Regions from separate parts of the Homo sapiens genome. Here region 1 is linked to region 2. Evidence: fine-mapped expression QTL. Tissue or cell type: tibial nerve. Region 2 holds a variant in brackets; the other region holds the start of a gene. All regions are shown on one strand. Distances are between the middles of the regions.

Region 1 (2,920 bases), 5.8 kb before region 2:
CCAATCTTCCCTTCTGATAAGTCCCAATGCCATGTAACCATTGGATACTTATCATTTGTTATATAATGAGTTACGTTTTCATATATTTATGCTAACTCTCTAACTTGACTATATATTCTACCAAGATAGAAGTAAATATTCCTTCCTCATTTTCCTATGGATATAAATTTATACATTGTACCTATTTAATCAAATACTTGACTGGTTGGATGCCTGCATCAAATGCAGACATGACTCCCCCCAAAATGGGCTTTGTAGGAGCCTATGTGGCAAAGATTAGGGTTCCTGGGAAGCCGAATCTGAGATGAAATTAAGAGCTCGTTATGTTAATTAAGGTGCATCCTTGGATTCAACACCTCTCGAGTTAGGGGAAGGAAGCAGACAGGGCAGAGAAAGAAGTTGAGCTTCCACGGAGACCCATCACAGCTTCAGGGAATCTCATAGAGATTTCTAGAGCTAGAATGACCCTTCAGCATTTTCTCAGGTTGATTTGCAATGAACAGGCCCTTACACTCCCTCCTTGATCAGTTTTTGGATGTGGGCTCCCTGCAAAGGGATGTGTCCTTGGGCAAGGCTGCTCTCTGTAACAGAGGCAATCCTTGGAAGGGCAGCCAGCTTATGGCCATCTGCCAACAGCTGAAGAGCAACAAGTTCTTCAGTGAAGGAAGGCCTGGCCAGTGCAGCACTGGGCTCATTTATATTAGGTAACTCCAGGTAAATGTAAGTGCATTTCTTAGAGGTGGGATGAGGTACTTTGAAGTACCTCACTGAGTTTAAAGGCAAAGGTATTGATACCCACAGTTATATTCATTATTTCTGGTTGAGTTCAATTACACTGAATTTGAGATGGCAGTTTGAAAATTTACTGTCAGTAACTACCAAAAAAAAAAAAAAAGAAAGAGCAGAGCATTGTCTTCGCGATTATGCTGGGACACTTTCAGAGTAAGTCCCCAAGATACAAGGTCCAAAAAAAATACTGATGTGGTACTCAATTGTGGTTCTTTGTAGTCTCTTTCTAAGAGAACTTCAGCTGCATGTTGGATGGAAAACAATATGAAACAAGGGAGAGAGAGAAGAAACAGAGTTTGTTAATATTCTCTGCTAGATTCTGCAGAGGAATCACTTTATTTTGCAGTTGCAACTAGCTTAAGTTATGTAGCTAGAAGTTATGTAGCTAGAAAGCTGACTTGCACACTTAAAGCTAATGAAGAGAAATGCAGGTTTTCCGGGGTAGGTTCTTGGCACTTCTCTGCAAATAGGTAAAAGGGAATGGCAGATATTCAAGCTTAGGGAGCAAGCAGCAAGGACAGAGCCTTCCCCGTCTCTGTGTGTTGAAGTCAGCAGATAGCACACCTGCTGCTGCGTGAGTTCCTTCTGCCAAGCAGAGCAGCACAGCTGCAAGACACCCTGCTTCTGGCTCTGAGCTTTGCTTGTCTTCAGGGATGGAGCCCCTCCCAAGGCAAGTTCAACTGGGTTCTTTGGCAGCCGAAGTCTACACGGACCCTGCAGGGAGCGGTGGAGAAAAGTGAGTTTGACATGCTTGGAAATATTTAGATCTTGGATGTAAACTTCAAGGAAAATATTTACTCTGTTTGTTTTAATACCACAGAGGTTTGGATCCCGGGAATCTTCAGAGTACAAAAGGCTCTTGCCAAGGCACCAATTTAACAATTTGGTCAGTGACAAAAGGGCATCCTGTTTAACTAGTCTGAATTTAAATAGCATGTTTCCAATGTATTAGCATGTCTGTCTCATCTGTTTACAGAACTGTTTTCTTTAACCCCTGAATTTTGTGTTTGGTTTATGAATTTGCACAGAATCAAATACAGTTTTTTAATAGAAAGCAAGCAAAAAAGCGGATCATCACATAGTTGAAAGAGTTGCTACCCGGGCATTGACAATAAACTTCCCACGATTACTTGACCATTCAGAGCAACCAGATCCTTGTAGAAGGCTACAAGCTCTCTTTACTCATGGCTCTTGGTGAAAAATTCCTTACTGTCTCTTTGCTGGTGCTGAGAAATACTGCAGAATGCTAAAGGACTGTCCAATTATATTTTTGGCGAGTGAATTATGATAAAAGAGAAGCCTTTTGTAAATGTGACTTGAAAAGTGGCGTATTTTGTGTCCTCTCTTTGTGTTTTATGCAGAATCCCTACTGCAGGACACAACTTTCAGGACTCACACTGATTTCCCTTTAGTTTTCTGTTTTTGTTAGTCTGCAGCAGAGTGGGAAATAGTTACTGTAAAGGGAAGTCTTAAGAAAACATATCAGTTATGTGCACAATATGTGTACATATATGGAGGAAAAATAGACAAAAAAAGGAAACTGGCATCACAATGCTCTCTCTAAGGGCCTATAAGGGATGAACTGGGACTCCTTCCTGCCTTCGGATAGCACATCAGGCAGAGAAAATGTTAACCATTTTTCAACTCTCAGAAAAGCAGATTTCATGATGTCATACAATGTCCTATTCCACTGTCAGATTGCTTCCCCACTTTGGCAATTAAAAATAATTACACTTTTTTTTTTTTTTTTTTTGCTGTACTGCCAAGCCAATTTCTCCTATACAATTGTTTTTAGACATGGCGAATGAACAGCTGCTTTTCAATTATTGGACACAGTTGTATTTCAATTCTCTTTTAACAGCTGTGAAACAGAATTCCTATTCAGAATTTTATAACAGTAAACCACACAAAAAGACTACTGTTGTCTCTCTGCTAATGGAGATTTTGTGTCCCACTTCTTTTTCAGTACCATTTCCCAGATGCTGTCTATTATCTTTCCTCCATCTTTGCTTGACTGTTACTACCATGTGTATGATTCCAACCAAGTCTGATGTCTGCTGATTAAACTTTCTTTACAATACCTTGGTCATTTTTTCCCTCCGTCAGAAGAGAAAGTTATCCCACTTCTCCT
Region 2 (2,920 bases):
AGGTTTATTAACTCTAAAAGTTATTGATCTCTGGATACATATCCATTTCAATTTCTGCTTCAAAATAAGTCTGTTTTTGTCTGTGCTCATCTCTTTCTTGTAATACATTGCTAAGAAAGGCCAATAGTAGCAAATAGGCACTGTTACTCTCATATCAATCTCTTGTCCTCACGTCCAAAAACTACAGGCTTATAGGCTCATGAGGTGTGTTGTGCCTTTCTATTTAATGTATGAAGTGGTTTTACCATATGTTTTGCCATGAAACAACATGACCTGAACCTTCATTGTTCCAACCTCATCTATCAGCCTCCATGAGGCTATCTGAAATAATATTTGTGAATACTTATTTCCTTAATCTGATCTCTATCCTAAGGCTGCATTATAGGTTCTGGGATCCTTCCCTTTTCAGGGACAAATGGAAAAAAACAACAAGGATCACTTGTGGGATATTGTGATAAAATGGGCCTGAAATTGATTAACATCTTTTCTGCCCACATTCTGTTGGTCACAATTAAGTCATATGGCCATATTTAATTGCAAAGTGTGATAGAAAATGTATTTGTGTGTGTGTGTGTGTGTGTGTGTGTGTGTGCCCAGTGGGAAATGGCAATGGATTTTAGTGCATATGTGCAGTCTCTGTCACACCAAAAAGTACAAAACTAAGTATCTGGGTATGCCAAATTCAGCTATATTGTTAGACGGTATTGCTTAGAGCATTATGAACTATTATTGATAGTTACTGAACATTTAACAGCAAAAGATCTGTTGATAGTATGATATCAATGTGCAGACGATTTAAAAATCTTGAGGCATTCCAACTATCATACACAAATCAGAGGCAATTCATTTACTTAAGCTCATTATTGACTACCTATTATGTATTGGACTTTATGTTATGTGCTATGCAAAGAAAAAGCACAGGATATATCTGTAACCTCAAAAAGCTCTCAGTATTCCAGAAGAGGCAAACATACACACAAGTAACTAAAACACATTTTTTTGTTCTATTATGCAGTTATAAACATTATATAGGAGCACAGAAGAGGGAACTACTATGTCTAGTCTTATTTAAAAACAAAAGAAAACAGAGACAGCAAGAAAATAGTAACTATTAAGAATGCTGTGGTTTGTTTTTGTTTTTGTTTGGTTTTACTATGTAAATGAAGTATCTCATCAAATAAGGAAGACTTTATGAGCAGGGAGTTATCAAAATGCTGAACATGGCTGGACGCGGTGGCTTATGTCTGTAATCTCAGCACTTTGGGAAGCCGAGGCGGGCGGTGACCTGAGGTCAGGCGGGTGGTGACCTGAGGTCAGGAGTTCAAGACCAGCCTGGCCAACATGGTGAAATCCTGTCTCTACTAAAAAATACAAAAATTAGCCAGGCATGGTGGCAGGCGCCTGTAATCCCAGCTACCTGGGAGAGGCTGAGGCAGAAGAATCGCTTGAACCTGGGAGGTGGAGGTTGCAGTGAGCCAAGATTGCGCCATTGT[A/T]CTCCAGCCTGGGAAACAAGAGTGAGACTTTGTCTCAAAAAAAAAAAAAAAAAAAAAAGTGCTGAACATGCTGCCCTGAAGAAGCAAAACCCAAAGGTGTTCAAAAAGGTCAGTGGTTTGTCTAATTCAATGTTTTGGGGAAGATATCTTGAAATCTTAAAATCCAGAACAATATTTAAAGTAAGAAAAGAAGCAAAGCCATTTTTTCCTCTTTGGTGGTTGTTATTGTTGACGTTGAAGAGTAACTGGAAAGAATAAGTTAAATGGTCAAAAGTTTGTTTTTGAGATGCCTGCAGTATGGCACTTGGGCAACCTCCCATGATGCTAGATCCCTGTTGGGTCTGACGAAGGCAGACATTCATTAAGCCTCTCACCACCAGTGGTTGGATCCCATCCACTTCATGCAAGTAGACAACCACAAGTATTTTATTCCGTATATCAGTACCAGAAGCTAGGAGCATGGAATGCACACAGTATGCTTTGAACCTCATAATTGTTCCTTGTAATAATAAATTTTTACATTTGAACCTGTGAGTTATCAAGGAAAAAAAAACAAAAAGCCACTTTGGTTAAGGGATAGACTTAAAATAACAGGAATTATGGAAATGGAAAAATACCACTTTTCTTTGTTGGCTCAAGGATTTATGTGTGGGGAAAAAATGATTCAGAGGTGATGGCCTTTCTTGGACATTAACAAACTGTAGAGGAGTTTGCGTCCCTGACAATGGATGGTGTGTAAAATCTAATGGTGGTGGGGGTGGGAGGAAGAGGCTGGATGTGGCAGAAAAAGAGAGGCTGAGCTTAGGCAGTTTTATACTTACAAAGGGAGAAATTGTTTGGATTTTTTTTCTTTTTTGGAAAGAATATCTATTGTTAAAAGTCACTTCAGCCTTTGCTAGAGAGTGAGAATAATTGGGCTTTAAAATATTAATAGAATATGAATATTGATGAAAAGTGAAATATCCTACAAACAACAGGCTTTTTCCAGCCAATTTGTTATACTCAACTCATGCCGATCGGATTCTGAGCTTTATACAAATAAACTTTAGATGGAAAATAAATCAAACATTTAAACATTAGAAATCTCATGACAAAAGAATAGAGAAACAAATAGACATTTCTTTCCTAAGAGTTGAAATTAAAGAAAAAATTCACAGTTGAAATTTCAATACATTAAAAAATTTCTAATGTAAAAACTTATTTTCTGTTGAAATGCAAACCACATATTACAGTGATAGTTACATTACATAGGGGATTGAGTTCATCTCTTAATGCCTCATGCAAATTTATAAGAAAATAATTAGCATAATTAACAATAATTTATTGGTCGATGTTATAGTAAATGTATAAATGAACAAATAAAAATAGCAGATATGCTAATGGAAACTGTTTAATTATGCTAATAATAAGAAAGTATCATAAGTTAA

Direction of the effects. Alleles are on the strand shown, and positions count from the first base shown. SD is a standard deviation of normalised expression in the study named.
With allele A in place of T in region 2, the expression in tibial nerve of the gene that starts at base 1,395 in region 1 is lower (moderate effect, 0.73 SD a copy in GTEx).

Evidence for each region.
Region 1: it holds the start of LINC01497, and the variant in region 2 is fine-mapped to the expression of LINC01497 in tibial nerve (GTEx, PIP 0.97).

The regions. Positions count from the first base shown.
Region 1 is chr17:69,960,313-69,963,232 of GRCh38, forward strand. LINC01497 (long intergenic non-protein coding RNA 1497) reads left to right here and starts at 1,395. Exons shown (of 5, transcript NR_110875.1): 1 at 1,395-1,525.
Region 2 is chr17:69,966,145-69,969,064 of GRCh38, forward strand. The region is part of intron 2 of LINC01497 (long intergenic non-protein coding RNA 1497); the gene reads left to right. Among named protein-coding and RNA genes, the nearest start is that of LINC01497, 5.9 kb to the left of the region's middle. The variant A/T (reference allele first, on the strand shown) is at 1,494.